3 separate regions of the Homo sapiens genome follow, and regions 1 and 2 are each linked to region 3. The links come from fine-mapping of genetic effects on gene expression. A gene starts in region 3. Each other region holds a variant in brackets. All regions are shown on one strand. Distances are between the middles of the regions.

Region 1 (5,707 bases), 24 kb after region 3:
TAGTGGGGAGAGGTGGATAAGGTATGTATGCCAAGGTAAGATGTTGAGGTTATTGCCACAAGAGAAACACAAAGTCCTGTGGGATCCAGTGGCGAGAAGGGGAAGGCCAACAATGGGTTGTTTTATTTCCCAAGTACCAAAGAGAAGAAATATTTTTTTGCAAATCCCATGTGATGTTTTGTTTCTTCTCTGTTTAGTTGGAAATGTGTTCTTGGCCAATGCCTCTTTTTTTAAAATTTTTTAAAAGGTAATGGCTATGCCTTCTTTTTTTTTGAGATGGAGTATTTTCTCTTGTTGCCCAGGCTGGAGTGCAATGGCATGATCTTGGCTCACTGCAACCTCTATCTTCCGGGTTCAAGCGATTCTTCTGCCTCAGCCTCAAGTAGCTGGGATTACAGGCATGCGCCACCACGCTCGGCTAATTTTGTATTTTTAGTAGAGACAGGGTTTCTCCATGTTGGTCAGGCTGGTCTCGAGCTCCCGATGTCAGGTGATCCGCCCGCTTTGGCCTCCCAAAGTGCTGAGATTATAGGCGTGACTCACCGTGTCTGGCAGCTACATCTTAAGATATTTCAGTTGTCTCATGTTAACAGAAAAATTAATGCAGTCATGTTTTCAGGCTTGGGAATATGTACCTGTGCCCCCCAGAAGGGTAAGACTTAGTCAGAAGGAGAATCATGGCGTAGTTCTCTGAAAACAACTGCTTCTCGTTCCTGTAGTTGACATTTGTTGGCCAGTAGGCGAGCACCCAGTGAGATAAAGCAGCCAGGACCCTGTTGTGGTGTTAGTGTTGTGGTACACCTTAAAGACTTTGTATTAAATATTTTGTAAGGAGAAGATGCTGAATTCCTAGGTAACTGAATTTTCCAGAAATCTTATTCCTAAATGCTTCCTTCTCACCAGCGCTATAAGGCCCAGAGAGAGGGAAGGGATGGCCCACAGGACCTGACACCTGCCTTTCCTTTGTTTCTAGTGCTGAGGTAGGGACCATCTTTGCCCTCAGCTGGCTCATCACCTGGTTTGGGCATGTCCTGTCTGACTTCAGGCACGTCGTGCGGTTATATGACTTCTTCCTGGCCTGCCACCCACTGATGCCGATTTACTTTGCAGCCGTGGTAGGTACAGGCCACGAGCCAGCAGCTGGGTTCACCATCACCCATCCCACTGTGGTCATTTTCCCTGAAGGGAAACCTGGGGATTATGGAAAGATGCAAAAGACAGCACTTCCCAGGCTGGTGTCCCTGGACACCATTCTGTGCAGTATTAATGGGGGTGTCACACACAAAAAATAGTAAGTTGGGAAATGCTGGGTATAAACAAAATCAGATTTTTTTTGCTGCATGACACTTCTGAACCTTTAAAATGCTAATCTGCATTGTGAATTGTCAGGGTTCCTGTTGACATTGTCTGGAATATATGTTCAGCTGATGAACACAATTAGGGAAATAGTAGCGTAAGCTGTCAACTCCAGATTTAAGAAAAGAAGAGATCTGGTGTCATGACAGACAAGGGAGGCGGCTTGCGGTGGAGGGTAGGGGCTTCAGTTAGTAGAAGGGTCTTGAGGGATGGGGTGGAGATGGGAATTCAGGGAAGTCCTTCAATGACCACTGGTCCCTTGAGCATCTGTGGATTTGTGGACCAACAGTCAGAAGGAAGATGCTTAAAGGGAGCAAGACTGTTCTTTCTACTGTTTTGAACCATTTCTTCTATGCTGGAGCTCCAGGAATCTCCCAATAATTCTCCTACTTTCTCCTAAAAGAATCTCCTTCATTTCTTTCAAGACTTAAAGGGACACCTGAGCAGCCCAGCATGCCCGAAGGACTTAGATTGTAACTGGTCAGCCTTTCATGTCATGTGGTGGAAGTTTGCAGGAAGGGCCAGAGAGTAGGAGTAGCACTGAGCGTATATATGTTATTACTTCCTTGATGGATACAAGAGTTTGCTCAACATTTGGGCTGAGTCCTGTCTGTTACCAGTTTAAATTCATCTGCAAGGATAATGGAGTGCAGGTGGCCCAGGCCCTGTGTGTCTGGCCTCTGACTGCAAGGCTTTACTACCTCCCCACAGATTGTGTTGTATCGCGAGCAGGAAGTCCTGGACTGTGACTGTGACATGGCCTCGGTCCACCACCTGTTGTCCCAGATCCCTCAGGACTTGCCCTATGAGACACTGATCAGCAGAGCAGGAGACCTTTTTGTTCAGTTTCCCCCATCCGAACTTGCTCGGGAGGCCGCTGCCCAACAGCAAGCTGAGAGGTGAGCAAGGCTGGGACACTGGTTGAATGGGGGTGGCTGTAAATGAGCAGAAGCGAGGGAAGGTTTGTGTCTGGTGGGATAGGGTTGGGGCATGTTTCCAGAGATCTGAGCTTAGGCCAGTGGAATCCCCACTGTAGACATATGGGTCTTTATCATAAAGAGCTTTCCCAGCAATGAAAGGCTCTGCCCGCAGCCTATGTGGTGTAGTTTTGCTTTCCTCCTCCTCTTTCATACCACTTCCTTCCTTCCGTCTCTTTCCCCTGCAGGACGGCAGCCTCTACTTTCAAAGACTTTGAGCTGGCATCAGCCCAGCAGAGGCCTGATATGGTGCTGCGGCAGCGGTTTCGGGGACTTCTGCGGCCTGAAGATCGAACAAAAGATGTCCTGACCAAGCCAAGGACCAACCGCTTTGTGAAATTGGCAGTGATGGGGCTGACAGTGGCACTTGGAGCGGCTGCACTGGCTGTGGTGAAAAGTGCCCTGGAATGGGCCCCTAAGTTTCAGCTGCAGCTGTTTCCCTGAAAGCCAGAGAAGACCTTCCTCTTACATCACATTAAGGTCTCACCCTTCCATGGAAGGATTGGGAGGGGTGGAATTTCCTTTATTAAAAGGGTTTCTGTCCAGAGTTTTTTATTCCTGCCACCCTGCCCTGCCCGTTTGTGTTTGCCTTTACTTCAGAGGCCA[G/A]TAGCAGAGCCTACCTGACACAGAGGGGACCTGGGGGCCTGGCACAGAATCTTATGCCTCTCCCAGTGGGCTTTTGGATGGGCTCTCTGCCACCTCCCTGGTGTTGGAGGAAGTGGGTTTCTGAAGCTTGCAGCTGCTTTTGCAACCTGCTGGGCCTGGGCTGCCCTAGTTACCGGGAACCTCCTAGTCACCCCATAGAAGGTGAACTGGAACATGGGATGCCCTCTTACTGCTCCTGCTTGCCTGCATCAGATGGACACAGAAGGAGGGGGCTGCTGCTGAAGGAGTCAGGCTTGGGATGGAGAGCAAGAGGCCAAAGGACTCGTCTGGGAGCATGATCGGCCCCTCTTACTAGCAGCTCCATCAGCTGATCAGAAATCAGAGACAGAAGGGAACTAGGTTACTCGTTAAATCCTACCTATTTTCAGCCTAGAAATCACATGGGCGTTTCCAGTCAAGTGGGAAGGAAGCTCATTTTTAGGGCCTAGACCTAGACTAGTTTTGCCTGCCTTTTTTTCCTCCCTGCTTTCTTCTACAAGCCACACAACATTGCTTATAAAAGGTACTTTTATTACTATTTTTAGAATATATACACCCCATATGTAAATTACCCTCACTTTTAAAGTAATAATAGTTCCTTCACGGAAAAAAAAATAGTTCTCATCAGAAGGATGAGCTTCTAAGATCCTGAATTTTACTTTCTACTTGATTAACATTTTCGCTTTAGCCAGAGTTGCTATTTGCAAACAGCTTTCCACTTCCAAAGTGCCACTTTCTGACCGGTTTTTCTTCCTGTTTTCCTCAAATCATCCTACTCCCAAATAGGCACCCACTCACTACCTTGGCGTCGTTTTTTGGGTCTGACTTGACTCGTCAACTGCTGGTCTCTCCCACCTGGTTGGAAATGTCGTTGGAAACTTGCAAAGACTCTCCAGACCTTAGGGAACAAGAGGCATCACTCAGTCCTTCTGGGACAGCTTCCCTGTAAGCAAAGCCAGGTTTGTTTTAGATTCACTCTGGCCTGAAAAAAAAAGTGCCTTTTGCTGCTTTAAAGAATTGGGGTATATGGTATGAAGCAGCCATGTACTTGTATTTTCCTGGTCTTTCCTGGGCACTCTTCTCTCTTGGCAGATGTTTTCTTAAAGTGAACACACCAGAAGCACTCTACCCCACCATATCCAGTCCTCTTTGCATGCCTGTTGTGTGCAGGGTGGAGGGTGTCCCACGTGCCAGAGCAGCTGGGAGCCCTGTCCGCTGAGTTACACTAAGCACTTTATTTTTATTTATTTTATTATTATTTTCTTTTTTCTGAGATGGAGTCTCACTCTGTTGCCCAGGCTGGAGTGCAGTGGTGCAGTCTCAGCTCACTGCAACCTCCGCCTCCCAAGTTCAGGCAATTCTCGCTGCCTCAGCCTCCCGAGTAGCTGGGACTACAGGCACCTGCTACCACGCCTGACTAATTTTTGTATTTTTAGTAGAGATGGGGTTTCGCCACGTTGGCCAGGCTGGTCTCGAACTCCTGACCTCAGGTGATCTGCCCGTCTCGTCCTCCCAAAGTGCTGGGATTACAGGTGTGAGCCACCACGCCCAGCCACCACTACGCACTTTAAAACCAAAAAAAGCTCAAAGGGATGGATCATTGTCCATGGCTCAGGAGCCCCACTGTGGGGTAAGTGTGATGTCGATGGATTAATTTAGACAGTGGTGTATTCATCAGGGCAAAGGAAATTCTTCCAGAGGTGATGATGCGGCAGATATTCCCAGTGCTCTCCCAAAGCAAGCTGGCCCTCTTGTCATCCTCTCAGTGGGCGGCACCAGCTGCCCCTCCTTCCACAAGTACTCAAGCCTGTTTGTAAATACTGAAGGAATTGATGGGGTTGAGGAAAGGAGGTGCATGTGACCAGGGTCCCAAGGCCACAGCTTTTCAGATCCTAGGAAGCAAGTGGCATTTGCTTGAGTTGTGGCCTCGGAAGGAGAATGTTTATCTGTTTTCTAACTTTGCTGACACCAGGATTCTCCCTGTCATTGAGAAGAAAGCATTATCTAATTACCTTCAGGTGGTTTACTTATTCTGTAAAGAATATGTGTAAATATTTTGTACAGAGCCCTGTATCAAATAAACAGCCATATGTGGTTACTAATCACCTCTTCTGTCATTCCGTCCTTGGCCACCGCTCAGTGGGAATGGTCTCTGATCTGGATGCTCCCACCTTCCATGTCAGGCCCAGAACTGTGCCATGGTCTGTGGACTCCTGGTCAGCCTTGACTGGCTAGGAGACCTTGGGCAGTACCTACAGTCTTGCTGTTTCTGTTTCATCTGCAAGAATTATGACCCACACACTCCAGCTGCAGCCCAGGGCACTGTGATATTTTATACGTGTGTAGATGTTTTTGTCCACAGTTCCTGGTTCATCACTCCCATAACCCTTTGTTATAATGTTGGGACACTGCAGGCCTCAGAAAACGGAATCTCTGTCTGTGACCTTCTCCTGCCCCATTTCACTTGCTCAACACCAGACTTTAATCTGACTGTAGCTCATAAGACCCTCATTCCAGAGAGGGTGCTGCCCCATACCCGGAAGGAGGAACGCTGCACAGAGAGGCCAAGAAGCATCTGGACAGACAGGCCTTGCTGGGTTTAGACCTTATGCTTTTTGTCCAGTTTCATCTCAACACAGCTGCCATGCTTCAGCCATGCCTATCCAATGACGTCTCCATAAAAGGCCCAGGAACACGGGAGCTTCTGAAGAGCTGAACATGTGGAGGGA
Region 2 (7,728 bases), 160 kb before region 3:
CAGACCCATCCCTGTCCTCCAGGAGCTCACTGGCTAGCAGGTGAGCCAACCAGAATAGAGACATGTAAAGGGCTGTGGGAACCCCAAGAAGTGAAAGGCTGGAAAAGGTTCCATTGAGGAGAGGGCCTTTAGGCCAGGTTTTGATGGATGTGTAGGAGTTCCTAAAATGGGGAAAGGAGCACTCTTTTTTTTTTTTTTTTTTTTTTTTTGTGACGGAGTCTCTAGCTCTGTTGCCCAGGCTGGAGTGTAGCGACATGATCTCAGCTCATTGCAACCTCTGCCTCCCAGGTTCAAGCGATCCTCCCACCTCAGCCGCCCAAGTAGTTGGGATTACAAGCACCTGCCACCACGCCTGGCTAACTTTTGTGTTTTTAGTAGAGACGGGGTTTCACCATGTTGGCCAGGCTGGTCTCGAACTCCTGACCTCAGGTGATTGTCCCACCTCGGCCTCCCAAAGTGCTGGGATTATAGGCATGAGCCACTGCACCTGGCAAAAAGGGCACCCTTAATGGAAGAAACAGCACAAGCAAAGGCTCAAAGTAGGAACAAGTAGGTTTCTGGGATCAGGTGTGGCCTGGAGTGACTGGAGCACCGTGAGAAACGTAGGGAAATGAGATTAGAGAAGCAGCAAGCCCAGCTAGGGAAGGACCTTAGGTGCCAGACAGTTGTTATAATTAAGCCCCGGAGAGTCCAGTTAAATATTTCCTTCTTCTTCTTTCCTCTCCTCCTTCTCCTTCTTTTTTCTATCAAGTACAGAGAGCTGAGTTAATCCCATTTCTCAAGCATAGCTCATTATCATCACACGCTTCACTTTTATTTTTTCCTCAAGCCCTACTCCTTTTCCCCTTACTCCCAACCATTGTGGGCATCCACTTGTGTGGAACTGACACGTGATGGTGAAGGCAGCGTGTGGTGATGTGAAGCACAAGGATTCTGGAGCTGGACTGCCTGGATTCAAAGCTGGGTCCACATCTTACCAGCTGTGTGACTCTGTGCAAGTTACTTGACCTTTCTGTGCTTCTGTTACTTAATCTCCATAAAATACTGATAAAACTGATACTATCTACGTCACAGGACAGTTATGAAGATTAAATGAGTTGTCACTTGAAAAACACTTAGAATAATATAGGTATCTATGTGATCAATAAATCTCAGCCAGGCACAGTGGCTCACACTTTAATCCCAGTGCTCTGAGAGGCCAAGACAGGAGGATTGCTTTAGGCCAGGAGTTCGAGACCAGCCTGGGCAACATAGTGAGACCCTGTGTCTATATAAACATTTAAAACTTAGCTGGGCATGGTGGTGCACGCCTGTAGTCGCAGCTACTAGGAAGGCTGATGGGGAACATCACTTGAGCCCGGGAGTTCCAGGCTGCAGTGAGCTGTGATCACGCCACTGCACTCCAGCCTCCTGGGTGACAGAGCAAGACCCATCAGGGCCGGGAAACAGGGGGATAGGGAAGTGACGGAGCCCCCGTGACTAGGGACACCCGAATGCTGCGGCTGGCAAAGCCCTTCAGAAGAGTGGCTGTCAAACTTATCCAAACATTTCTCTTCACCCTTGTCCTTCACCGTCCTCCTCCTCTGCCTCCCACCCCACTTCTTTAAAGCTGTGGTACCAGTGGGGCAGGGCTGCACCAGGGTTGGCGAATGGGCTCTGATAGTCTCTTGTGCTACAAATCCCAGCTCCCTCCTTTGCTAGTCCTCTGACAAGTGACTTCACCTCTCTTTGCCTCAGTTTACCCCTCTTTATAAAGAGCATAGTAACAGTGCTACTTCTGAGGGTTAATGAGTGGCCAAAATGAGGAAATGCATCTGCCAGCTGACAGCATGCCTATCACGTAGTGAGCGCTCAATAAATGGTGGCTATTCTTTTTAAACATAATCTGCCATAGAGACCAATCTAAGACACAAGGGAAACAAGGCCAGCTCTGCTGAAAGTTGGGGTCTTCCGATATTTTGTGGCGGCCACTGAGGCACCTCTCAAAGGCTAAACCTAAAATCACCCCGAAATTATCTAAAGTTTTCACTGTGCAGATGGGAAAACTGAAGCCCAAAGAGAGGAAGCTAATTCTCAGCCATTCCTGATCCAACAATTTTTCTTGCGAACCTACTGTGTGCCAGGCCCTGTGCAAAGCATCAGGGATGGAGGGGACTGGGGAAAAAAACCCACTACTCTGCCTGCCTTCATGGGGCTTACCCTCTAGCTCCAGACAGGAAAAGATAACTGAATGTTGACCACACGGAGTAGATGCCAGAAGGAAAAACAGAGGGAGCACCATCAAAAGCCAGCTTGGGAGGCACATGTGGGGACAGAGAACCCATTAGCTGGAGCGGGGGGTTGGTGGGGTTACATTGTTAGAGCTGAGACCTCCAAGAACAAGAAGGTGCCATGTGAAAGAGGGAAGAGGGCAAGTGGATGTTACCAGCGCTGTTGTTTGTAATAGCAAAAAATAAAAACCATCCAAATGTTCATCAACATGGACTTCAGATACTATATCGTGGTATTAACATATTCATATAAGGGAAGAATGCCCAGCAGTGCCAACGAATGGCAGCTGCCTGCCTCAATGCAGATGGGTCGCCAATGCACACTGTGCAAGGAAAAGAGCATGCGAGGTAGGATGCACAGAATCCATACAATATATATGCACTTCTATACATTTTTAAGAATGACGCTTGAACTCGAGAAGCGGAGGTTGCAGTGAGCCGAGATCGCGCCATTGCACCCCAGCCTGAGCAACAAGAGCAAAACTCCATCTCAAAAAGAAAAAATTCTTTAAAAAAGAAGGAAATATAGTCCTATGTATTGGGTAAGGATTTATTATATGTAGTAAAAGGTAAAACATTCATGGAAATAATAAACATCAGGATTGTGGCTTCTAAGAGGGTGGATGGGGATGGTGGGGAGGGATACCAGGGACCCTCTGTATTAGCAATCGATCCTGCATTAGAAATCATCCCAAAACATAATGTTTTCAAAGTACTAACAGTCATTTTTTATATCTCACAGTTTCTGAAGGCAGGAATATGGGCATGGTTTAGCTGGGTGGTTCTGGTCCTCAGGAAGCTAAATTCAGCTGTCAGCTGGGCCTGCAGTCATCTGAAGGCCTATCGGGTTGGGGAGTTGGAGGGTAAGCTGGAGAATTTGCTGCCAAGCCAAAGGGGGTTCATCTGGGTGGCTAGCAAATTTGTGATGGTTGTTGATCAGGGACTGGGAAGAGGGGAGAGGGCCTCAGTTCCTCTCCATGTGGGCCCGCCCATGCATCTTGGGTTCTATCACAACATGGTGGCTGGATTCCAAAAGTGAGCATGGAGAGATAGACGGACAGATGGACAATTAAGCAGAAGTTGTATCCCTTTTGTGACCCATCCTCATTCACCACATCCTCTTCATTAGACATGAGTTGCTGAGCTCAGCCCATACTCAAAGGTAAGGAGAATGTAACTCTACTTTTTGAAGAGAGGAGTGTCCAAGAATTTGTGGACATATTTAAAACCATTCACTCTCAATTCTTTTTGAAAAGTTTTAGGCCAGGCGCAGTGGCTCATGCCTGTAATCCCAGCATTTTGGGAGGCCGGGGCAGGCAGATCACGAGGTCAGGAGTTTGAGACCAGCCTGACCAACTTGGTGAAATCCCATCTCTACTAAAAATACAAAAATTAGCCAGGTGTGGTGGCGTATCCCTGTAATCCCAGCTACTCAGGAGGCTGAGGCAGAAGAATCACTTGAATCTGGGAGGCGGAGGTTGCAGTGAGCTGAGATCACGCTGCTGCACCCCAGCCTGGGCAACAGAGCGAGACTTCATCTCAAAAAAGAAAAGAAAAGTATTATTCCTTAAACTGAGCAGTGAGTACATGGGATTTTATTCTGTTATTCTCTGTACTAGTTTGAGTATTAAGTAACAGAGGGAGACGGGCAGTGGGGAGGAGTGTTTCAGGCAGAATGAAGGAGAGTGGTGATGGTGAGTGGCAATGAAGTGAGGACAGTGGCTGATGAGGGCACAGCAGTGGGCAGTGCCCAACCAACTTGTTGGCTGAGGTTGCATCATGGACACAGTCAGGACCCTGGGCATCTTGGAAGCAGCAGAGGCTCTCTGCCCACTCTGAGCCCCCACACCTGGCGTGATCCTGGCCTGGAGGAGGTGGTCCCAGTGTTAGTGGCAATTCCTTCTCTGAACACAGCTCCTGGGTGCCTGCTCTTCTGAAGTGCCATCCACCCCTCTCCCCTGACATCTGGCTCTTTTCCCCAGGAGCATCCTTCCACAGATATACCATTTGTCTATAAACATATCCACAACCACACACACTGGTATCTCCCCCCAAATGGAAGCCTATTATGCATCCTTTTCAATACCCTT[C/T]TTATAGCCTTTTCGACATACTTTGGGACTCTTACATGTTAGTACATAGCAAGCTCTGCCACTCTTTTTTATGGCTTTACAGTACTCCCTCATGTGGATGTGCTACAATTTATTTAACCAACCCCCTATTCACACACATTAATTTTGTTGGCCTTTGTTATTACTTTTTAGATTTTAAATGTAGAGCGTTGAGTTTAATAAGACCTCAATTCATGGCAGATTATCATAACTTACCCCTGTGCACCCTCCTTTGTTTGGTTTTGTTTCTCTCTCTCTAGTTATTCCTTTTTATCCCATTTCCCCTTCATATTTTCTGCACCTCCATAGATTCTGATGGGTTCTTTGTGCATTCTGTGGTGTATAAGTCTTCACGTAGAACATAACAGACTTGTATGTGTGGCTTCACCTGTGACTTCTGATTGCTGCCTAGAGCTCTTTGCACCTACCATGTATTCCTTTCTACCACCCCAGTAATGGATACCTGAGTGGCCTCTAACTCTCTGTTGCCACAACAATATGGCCATATCCTCTATGGGCTGATAAGAGAATTTTGTCTGGACATATAGCCAGGAGTATAATTGCTGGGTCATCGGATATATCTATTCTGGTTATCTTTTGCACTACAATAAACTACCCTCAACTTAGAGGCTTAAAGCAACCACTTTGTTCATTACTTTGTGAGTCAGGAATTTAGGAAGGACTCAGCTGGGTGGCTCCTTTCTGAACCTTGTGGTATCAACTGAAACAGCTACGGCTGGAGGTTCCCTTTCAAGATGGCATCTTCACTCATGTCTACAGCCTTGATGTTCCTGGCCTCTCTCTCCATCACATGGTGTCTCATCCTAGAGGACTTCTTTCCATTGTTCGCGGGACTTCCTCACAGAATGGCAGTCTTGGGGTGGCTGGAGTTCTTCATGGCAGCTGGCTTCCCCTCAAGTAATTGTTCCAAGAAAGAGGAAGTAGAAGCTGCCAATCTTTTAAAGCCTAGGCCTGGAAACTGACACATCATCACTTCCACCATAGTTGTTTGTCAAAGCAGTCAGAGGCCAGCCCAGATTCAGAGAGCAGATACATAGACCTACATCTAGATGGGAGGAATGTCAAATAATTGGTGGCCATAATTTATGCACCCAATGTACAGATTTAACTGGACAGATTGCTCTCCAGATGGCAGCTCCAGTCCACACACCCCCAGCGCTATCTCCACATCTTCACCCATACTTGGCTCTGTCCAGCCTCTTCAGATCCCCCTTCACACTGCAGTAAACATTATTGTAGAAATGCTCTTATTTCTTTCCCCAGTGCACGCTATACTAAGTTGTATATTCATTCATTGTGTGTCTCCTCTCCAGAAAATAAGCACCAGGCAGAGGGACTTGGTTGGATTTATTTGCTGCAAATCCTTAGCACCTGAACAGCACCTGGCATTTGGTAGGAGCTCTTACATTTATCTTAAATATTTGTGGAACTCAATCACCCTCCACAGAGATTGTAGCAATTTGCATCCCACCAGCAATGTCTAAGTCTCAGTAACTTGAATTGACCCAAACACATGGTTCATATGCTTTAAGTTCATGCTTCCCCCTGCTCAAGAACCTTCAAGGACTTCCTATTACCTTGCTTGGTGCATCTCAAACTGGAACCCACGACCTTTTAATACTAGGAGCAAGAGTTTCTCCATTTCTTATGGAAAGAAGCCCATGGATGTTTCAATGTTAAGTTTTTATCTTATCCATTTTTTATAAATGATTAGCATGGACTCTCATTTAACTAAAAAATCACTAAGAGATAGAGATACCTCACAAACAATGAGTTCACTGTTCGGGGGCTTCTAATGGTATAATGAAACTCGTCACAACTTAGGGCCAATAAACAACACGACTGATAGCTTGAACCAAGTTCTTTCTCCTAGCTGAGCCTCAGTTTACCCATTGGTAGAATGAAAATAGCATTATCTCATATGGTGTGTTGGGTACTTTTTAACTCATTCAGTCCTCAATGCAACTAGAAGAGATGGGTACTATTATTATTCTCTTTTTCAGTTGAGGGAACTGAGGCATAGGACAATTAAATAACATGTCTAAGTTTCCACATCTGGGGAGTGATGGGGCCTGGGTTTGAACTCCTGCACACAAATAGTCCTCCTCCCACCCCACCCCCAAGGCTGGCTTCAAGGCTAGATATTTATTCTTTGTTTGTTTGTTTGTTTTAAATTTTTTTAGAGACAAGGTCTTGCCCTGTTGCCCAGGCTGAAGTGGAATGGTACAACCACAGCTCACTGCAGCCTTGAATTTCTGGGCTCAAGCAATCCTCCCACTTTAGCCTCCCAAGTAGCTGGGACTACAGGTGCACACTACCACACCCAGCTAATTTTTAAAAAATTATTTAGTAGAGATGGTTTCACCATCTTGCCCAGGCTGGTCTCGAACTCCTGGATTCAAGCTATCCTCCTACCTTGGCCTCCCAAATTGCTGGGATTATAGACATGAGCCACTGTGCCTGGCTAGATGTCGACTCTTGTGGCATATTTTAGGGAAGTGGTGTGCTCACAAGTATAGCCTTTCTGGGGGTAGGGGGAGGAGGTGGCCTGTGAGTGGGAGATAGTCTCTGACCAGATTGAAATATACACAAAAGGCACAGGGTTGAAATCGTGCTGTGCCAAGTCCATGGTCCCCTCTGGGGTATGAACTGAGACTCTCGGTCTCCCAAATGGCTTATCAATAACATCTGATTCTTTATCATTATGGTAATAGTTACCATTAATAACAGCTAATATCTATTGCACGTTCATTGGGTACTAAGACTTTTCTCTCCATTTTTGAATCCCTCAATAGCCCTAGGAAGTTAGTGATTCACATTAACCCCATTTTACAGGTGAAGACACAGAGCTCAGCGGCAGAGTTGGGATTTGCTCCCTGTGCCTCCACCCACTAATGCGTCCTTGAAGCATCTCTGTTTACAGAGGAATTTCATGCATTATCTCACTCGATTTCACAGCCACAGCTTGAAGTCAACGCTCCTATCCTTCCTATTTTGCTAACAAGGAAATCAAGGTGCAGTGCACAGCTCTTTGCAACAAATCTGTCTGCTCTGCCTTCCCCATCAAATCCAGGATGTCACACAGCTGGAAGGTACCTGATTTATAGCTCAGGAAGGAGCACGTCAGGGCCTCTGGGGCACTGGGCAGGGTTCTCAGGCAGTTGCCCAGAGATCCTGTTTACTGGCAGGGCCGGAGACACACAAGACCAGGAAGGAGGGAGGCCCCGGAGACGACCCATGTTTGCATCTTCAAAGGCTTGCCCTGCACTCTCCCATCCTCAGGATTCCCCAGCTGGGCAGTGAGTTGTCACTTCCAAGAAATGTCCTCC
Region 3 (7,728 bases):
AGTGCAATGGTGTGATCTCGGCTCACTGCAGTCTCCGCCTCCTGGGTTCAAGTGATTCTCCTGCCTCAGCCTCCTGAGTAGCTGGGATTACAGACCTGTGCCACTATGCCTGGCTAATTTTTGTATGTTTAGTAAAGACGGGGTTTCACCACTTTGGCCAAGCTGGTCTCGAACTCCTGGCCTCATGTAATCTGCCTGCCTCGGCCTCCCAAAGTGCTGGGATTACAGGTGTGAGCCACCACGTCCTGCCAATCTTTTTCTATAAAGGAGCAGATAGGCCGGGTGCGGTGGCTCATGCCTGTAATCCCAGGCACTTTGGGAGGCTGAGGCGGGCGGATCACCTGAGGTCGGGAGTTTGAGACCAGCCTGACCAACATGGCAAAACCCCGTCTCTACTAAAAATACAAAAAAATTAGCCAGGCATGGTGGCGGGCTAATCCCAGCTACTCGGGAGGCTGAGGCAGGAGAATCACGTGGACCTGGGAGGCGGAGGTTGCAGTGAGCTGCGATTGCGCCATTGCACTCCAGCCTGGGCAACAAGAGTGAAACTCCATCTCAAAAAAATACATACATACATACACACATAAAATAAATAAATACATAAAGGAGCAGATAATAAATATTTTAGGTTTTGTAGGCCATATCTCTGTTGCAACCACTGAACTCTACCGTTGCAGCATGAAAACAGCCATAGACAGTAGGTAAATGAATGAGCGTGACTCTGTTTCAGTAAAGGTTTATGGACACTGAGATTTAAATTCCATATAGTTTTAATGTGCTACAATTAAGTTGTGATTTTTCAACATTTATCAAGGTAAAAGCCATTCTTAGTTCATGAGCCGTGCAAAATCAGGCAGTAGAGTGGTTTTGGCTTGCAGGTGGGCAGACCATCTTTTTTGCTAACCGCCTGGTCTAAGGCAAGCATATTAGCAATGAATTGTGTACTTGCAGCACATGCAAAAATTTAAAATACTGATAAAATGAATCGTGGTATATTTCTAAGATGAAATTCTACTTAACAACAAAAACAAATGAACTATTGATTAATGCAACATGATTGCTTATAAAATAATTACGCTGAGTAAAAGAAGCCAGACAAAAAAGACTACATACTATATGATTCCGTCCATAAAAAATTCCAGAAAATGAAAACCAATCTATAGTGACAGGATGTAGATCAGTGGTTGTTTGCAAGTGGTTGGTGGGTAGAGGGGAGAAAGCAAGAGAAGGAAGGGATTTTAAAAAGTAAAATGTAGGACAACAGCAAGAAGAACAGGAGGGAAGAAATGGGAATTTATTGTAAGGTCTTTATATTATACATGAAGCGGGACATTTTTTGAAAGTAAATTCTGGCCCAAGCTTCACAACGACCACACAACTGTTTAGTCCTAGAGTTGTGGTGGTGGGAATGGGGTGGGGGTCACTGTTCCATCACTACCAAAAGCAAGAATCCAGCTGGCTGGATGACCAGCGCAGTAAACTGAGAAGGGAATAAATATCTCAAATTGCTTGAGCACGTTACTCTTAAACTGGGATGACTTAAATCTTCCTTCAGTGGGCACTAAGCATCTTTTAACCTCAATGATGATTTATTTCATTTTATTTATTTATTTTTTGAGATGGAGTCTCACTCCGTCTCTTAGGCTGGAGTGCAGTGGCGCAATCTTGGCTCACTGCAACCTCTGCCTCCCAGGTTCAAGCAATTCTCCTGCCTCAGCCTCCCAAGTAGCTGGGATTACAGGCAGGCACCACCATGCCCAGCTAATTTTTGTATTTTTAGTAGAGATGGGGTTTCACCATGTTGGTGAGGCTGGTCTTGAACTCCTGACCTCAAGTGATCTGCAGCCCTTCACCTCCCAAAGTGCTGGGATTACAGGCATGAGCCTCACAGATGATTTAGAACAAAGACTAGAAATGTTTTCAAACTTCTAGTATTAATAATTTTGCATTAAGGCATCTGTGTAAATGTGATACTTTAAATTCCTATAATGTTCAAGATAATTTCAAGAGCTTGGCACTGTGATTCACGCCTGTAATCCCAGAGCTTTGGGAGGCGAAGGCAGTTTGAGACCGGCCTGGGCAACATAGGGAGATTCCCCACCCCCTCTATAAAAACTAAAAAAACTAGCCAGGCATGGTAGTGTGTACCTACAGTCTCAGCTACTCGGGAGGCTGCAACAGGAGGCTAGCTTGAGCCCAGGAGCTTGAGGCTGCAGTGAGCTATGATCGCTATTGCACTCCAGTCTGGGTGATAGAGTGAGACTCTGTCTCAAAAAAAAAAAAAAGATAATTTTGAGAATTCTAACAGATTATTCTTGTACTAATTACAAATATGTATTTGAATAGATTTAGACTTTTGATTTTAAGATGAAATCTCGTTTGTATTGACACATTTGAAAGCACTCATGACTCAGTATTCTTATAAATGTATTACATTTACAAGAATTACACAAGGACTTGAAAGGCTTTGTTAGAAACCTGTGATACTTAGAAAAACGAATTGAATTTATAAATGCAGTTTCAAATGTTCAAAGGATTTTAATTAGCTTAGTTTATTAATGGGACCAAATAACTGATATAATTTACTAGATTTATGAATAGAACTGTAAAACTTGGCTGTGCGCGGTGGCTCACGCCTGTAATCCCAGCACTTTGAGAGGCTGAGGCGGGCGGATCACGAGGTCAGGAGTTTCATGGGCTGGAGGTCTCAGGATAATAAAGAACTGTTGTGGTTGGGGGTGGGAGGTGGAAGAGAGTCATCAAGCAACTGGAATTATGGGAACTTCAGCATGAAGACCTAGCACTAGAAATTCGGGAGGCCACAATCACAATATCAGGGATATAACCAAGGGAATGGATGTCTAATTGGAAAGAAAGGAATATCACTGAAGACGAGAAGGAAATCAGACCTGATAAGCCAGAGCGCTGCTTTAGATGAGTGGCCACTATTTCGCACAACTTAAGGGGGCACGGTTCACGTGAACGTCTACGTAAATGGCGCTCCCAGGCCTTGTGCAGTGCATAACCTGCGGACCCGTATGACATGAACCTGCTAGATCCCCAAGTACCCAAGAACTGATGACAGGAGTTCGTGTGGGGAGACGAGACAGGAGGTAAAAAAATAATCCTTGGTAAGCAAAAATTGGTCATAATTGTGGAGTATTTACTATATGCTTGGTGATGTTCTAAACACTCTCAATAACCTTGTGAGTTCAATATTTTTATTATCATCAATACTATTTTACAGATGAAAGAAGCAAAGGAAACGACAGCTGGTCTCGAGCACACTCGCTCAAGAGCGCCACACTCTACACCGTAGAGTCTACAGCGCAGACGAAGCCAACTCCTCAGAGCGCTCACCGCGCTCTTTCCGCAGCCTCCCCCGCCGCCGGCCGGGCGTAGCGCAGGGTCACGTGCCGGCGCGGGGCGGGGCCAGCGGGGCGCCTGCGCGCCTGCGCGCCGCTGGCCGACGGAGGGGAGCCTGCCGATGCCGAGCGGGTGCTACGTCCCGCGGTCGGAGCCGCGTCTTCTCCCGGCTCCGCCACCAGCCGGGGCTCGGGTGGGGGCCCGGGGCCCCGGGGCATGGCCCTCCGGAGTGCGCAGGGCGACGGCCCCACCTCCGGCCACTGGGACGGCGGCGCGGAGAAGGCAGGTACGGAAGCCGACCGGGGCGCCGGGAGCGGCCTGCGAGGGCGGCCCGGGGGGCAGGGGCAGCTGGCGGAGGCGGCGCCGGAGGGGCGCGGGCTGGGGACCCGGGGCTGCTGCGGGGTTCCGGGCGGCGAGAGGAACAGGCTGAGGGCCCAGGGCACGTCTGATGAGGAGAGGGCCTGGAACTGGGGGGGCTCGGGCGGGTGCCGAGCTGACCCGAGGGAGCCTGGCGGCAGAGTCGCGTCCCCAGGCAGAAGAGCGGGCGGCGGCTTCGCGCCCCGGCTTTCTTCCATCTGGAGAGGACTGGGACTCCTCGAGCGCGGAGGCCAGGCCCACCCCGTCCCAGGCGTCCGCCACGTCCGCAGGCTCCCGGAGCCGCCTCCCCGAGGGGTATCAGCTCTCCCGAACTGCATTCACCGTCGCCGGCTTGATTGACGCGCTGCCCGCGTACCGCCGATGTAATTACCACACAGTTCTTCCTTTAAGGTGCACAGTTCAGTGATTCTTAGAAAATTCACAAAGTTGTGCAGCCATCGCCGCTGTCTGATTCCAAAACGAAACCCTTACCCATTAATAGGCACTCCGCGTTCCCCGGTATTCACGACGCCTGGCAACCACGAATCGACTTTCTGTCTGTCTTCTGCCACCTATTTTAATGTTATTCAATTGTGTAAAAGCGGCCGGGCACCATGGCTCGCGCCTGTAATCCCAGCGCTTTGGGAGGCCATGGTTGGAGGATCGATTGAGGCCAGGATTTCGAGATCAGGCTGGGAAACACAGCGAGGCCTCATCTCTACAAAAAGTTTTTAAAAGTTAGTCGGGTGTGGAGGCTCGAGCCTGTGATCCCAACGACTCTGGAGGCTGAGGCAGGAGGATCGCTTGAGCCCAGGACTTAGAGGCTACTCTATGATTGCGCCACTGCACTCCGGCCTGGGTGACAGATGGAGACCCTATCTCAATAATAATAATAAGTAAATAATTGTATAAAAAGCGCTTCTATTTTTATACTCTTTTAGTTTGGACAATTTCTGTGAAATCATGTTTTTGTTGCACATGATGTTCTCAAATGTTTTTCATTCAATAAATACATGACAGTTAAAATTATGAATGTACACCGTGAACCAAGTTAAATAATCTTTTTTCCTTGAGGAAGACTAAGGTGACTTTCCCTATTTCCAGTCCTCTGATGGATGGTGCCCGTAACAGAGCCAAACACGTTATTAATACAACCCACATATTTTGAGGAAGCTCCTGGTATCTATATTTTATTTTATATTTTATTTGGGCTCATTTTCTGTTTTTCCCTTTTTCTTATGTTCTGATACTGAATGGAAGTGGAGCTCTGAACCCTTTGGCACCGTAACCCTTTAATTACTGGTGTTTGTGTGATGTCTGTCCTCATGGCATAACAGTCAATGCCCTAGGCAGCATGGGTCTTGTGACCTGTTGGCAGTGCAGCTGTGTATCTGTTGCAAGACTTTACCCCCTCTAGTTTCCTTGATTTTGCTTCTCTGGATGAATGGGACAAATTTAAAGATGAGGTTTTTTGTTTTTGTTATTGTTTTGTTTTTTAATCATATCAGAGTATTGTTGGCAAAGTTACTAATGCTAGAATCCCTCTTTTGTAGCGTTTATAGTCAGATTGGTTTACTTACTAGACTGTTTTTTTCCATTGTAGTGAAACATTCTTTCTTGGTACCTGCTTTTTCCAGGTAGTTAACAGAATCTTTGCTAATTTGGATACTGTTTTGTAGAAACTACTAATGAAGACCTCCAGAAACAGAGGCTAGTTTGTTTTATTTTGTGTTTAATAGAACTCTTACCCAGACTGAAATAAGGTTTTCCTCTCCTGCTGTGGTCTTCTGGTACAGACGTGGAGTTAAAGCATTTTTTTTTTTTTTTTTTGAGAGATGGGATCTTGCCCTGTCACCCGGGTTGGAGTGCAGTGTCACAGTCAAAGCTCACTGTCATCTCCCAACTCCTGGACTTAAGTGCTCCTCCCACCTCAGCCTCCTGAGTAGCTGGGACTACAGGCATAAATTTTCAAGTTAATTTCCAATGTCAATATCAGTAGTTGTGGGTGGGTGTAGGGGTATGTCTGTCTCCCTCCCTCCACACAAAACGGCCCCCCCCTTCCATTGTTTTAAGACTAGCATTTCTTAATTTGAGCTTAATTTCAGTTTAAAGACTGTAAAGCCTTTATGATAATGCAGGCTTAAACCAAATAATCAGTATGGAATTTTGTACGCTCACACGAGATTCCATTATATAAATTAGTTGATCCAAGTTAGTATTTGTTTTGGTGATATGAAAAAATATATGAAAAAACTTTTAGAGGAGGCATGGATAGTGGTCATCTTTAGTTGTTATCGTCCCTTCCCAGTGTATTAAGTGCCCTAATCCAGGTGATTTTGGACATGCCTATTACTCTGAGGGGGCAGAAATCTTTACCTGGATTCTGTAGCCAGAGTTGGGAGAAGTTTAAGCCAATAGTGGGTTGTGTCATCTTTATCTGAACCATTAAGAACCACAGTTCAGATGAAGTGTCCCATTGTTAAAATTAGCATTTTAGGGAGTTGAGTCTGATCTCCCTCCCTGACTACAAAACCCTGTTGCAGTTGTTGCTATACCTATTGCTGTGGTGCCCCTCAAATAAAGTCTGCTTTGCCCTCTTTATAAATAAATAAATAAATAAATAAAAATAAGCGTTCTAATGAAGAGTAGGCCAAAGTCATACCTATCTTCCTTTGTTGAATGAATTACTTTTCAGGCATCAGGGATTTATTTATAGCAGTCTTATATTTTGCAGCCAGCTGTAGGACGGTCATTCGTTCCATCATGGTTATGATAGCCAAGACCTCTACTATAAAGGAATTTGGAAGGTATCAGCTTTGGAATAATAGTGCACTATCTTGTAAGTGGGGCAATAAAGAAATTGGAGAAGAAAGGATTGAGGGAGATTAGAATGACATACATTCTACCTCTAGATGAAATGTGGGCTTTTATTCCAAGCCAGATACAGCGTTCTCAAGTCCAGAAATGTGTGTCCTGCTCTAAATCTATAAAGTTTATCTCGAAATACAATAGATAATAGGCATTTATTTTAATCTTTTCCTGAACATCCCAAGAATAGCTCTATGATGTTTCTCTTTCGGAAATAAACAGGATGTCTGTGAATTTGTCTTTCAGTGGAGACGCTGCTAACTCCCTCCCTGTGTCGTCTAGCAGTTGATCTCACTCTGTAATTCATACATCTTTAGCTCACTTGAATTTTCTGTTTCCTCTTCCCTTTTTATGTCACAGTGAGAGCCTATACATTTAGTTGGAATAAAGTATTTGTCAGAGTGGCACACGTGGGAGTGCTTTCTCCATCTGCCACTGACATTTAATCACTAGGCTGTGGGGTTGAGGAGGGTGGTGTTGGGGCCTGAAAAAAACAGCAGCCGAAATCCACGTTGGGACAGCATCCTCCTCTGGGAAACACCGGTAGTGTTAGAAACAGGCCAAAGAGTCTGCAGATCTGTTTAGAGAGTTCTGCAGTGAGCATCACCTTAACAGTATGGGAAAAATAATGTCATTTACTGCAAGCCAGTTTTTTCCAGAGGAACAATAACTAAACTAAATCACTTACTATATTCTGCACGTATTTGTTGCGTTCCCACAGAGTGCCAAAAATTTTGAAATAGTAAGTAAATTTTGAAATGCAGGATTAAAAGTAGAATTGGAGGCCAGGTATGGTGGCTCAACGCCTGTAATCCCAGCACTTTGGGAGGTCGAGGTGGGTGGATCACTAGAGCCCAGGAGTTTGAGATCAGCCTGGGCAACACTTTTTTTCTCTACAAAATATATATACGCAAAAATTAGCTGGGCCAGTGGAGCTTGTCTGTGGTCCCAGCTACCTGGGAGGCTAAGGCAGGAGGATCACTTGAGCCCAGAAGGTTGAGGCTGCAGTGAGCCATGATCGTGCCACTATTCTCCAGCCTGGGTGACAGAGTAAGACCCTGTCTCTAAAAAAAAAAAAAAAATTGGAACAGAGTCTTAAGAGAAATGAGTTATGGGAGGTATGATTTGAGGATTTGA

Direction of the effects. Positions count from the first base shown, and alleles are read on the strand shown. Sizes are in standard deviations (SD) of each study's normalised expression. Not every link is listed here.
For the expression in monocytes of the gene that starts at base 3,455 in region 3, allele C in region 2 goes with a lower level than allele T (moderate effect, 0.51 SD a copy in Quach 2016).

The links.
Region 1: its variant is fine-mapped to the expression of TBC1D20 in CD4 T cells (Kasela 2017, PIP 0.95).
Region 2: its variant is fine-mapped to the expression of TBC1D20 in monocytes (Quach 2016, PIP 0.95).

What each region holds. Positions count from the first base shown.
Region 1 is chr20:435,656-441,362 of GRCh38, reverse strand. TBC1D20 (TBC1 domain family member 20) reads left to right here. Exons shown (of 8, transcript NM_144628.4): 6 at 974-1,115; 7 at 2,068-2,255; 8 at 2,522-5,707. The coding sequence ends at 2,777. Among named protein-coding and RNA genes, the nearest start is that of TBC1D20, 24 kb to the left of the region's middle. The variant G/A (reference allele first, on the strand shown) is at 2,940.
Region 2 is chr20:623,074-630,801 of GRCh38, reverse strand. No RefSeq gene overlaps it. Among named protein-coding and RNA genes, the nearest start is that of TCF15, 17 kb to the right of the region's middle. The variant C/T (reference allele first, on the strand shown) is at 4,361.
Region 3 is chr20:458,260-465,987 of GRCh38, reverse strand. TBC1D20 (TBC1 domain family member 20) reads left to right here and starts at 3,455. Exons shown (of 8, transcript NM_144628.4): 1 at 3,455-3,652. The coding sequence starts at 3,583. RefSeq lists silencers at 3,016-3,085, 3,366-3,855, 3,924-4,072.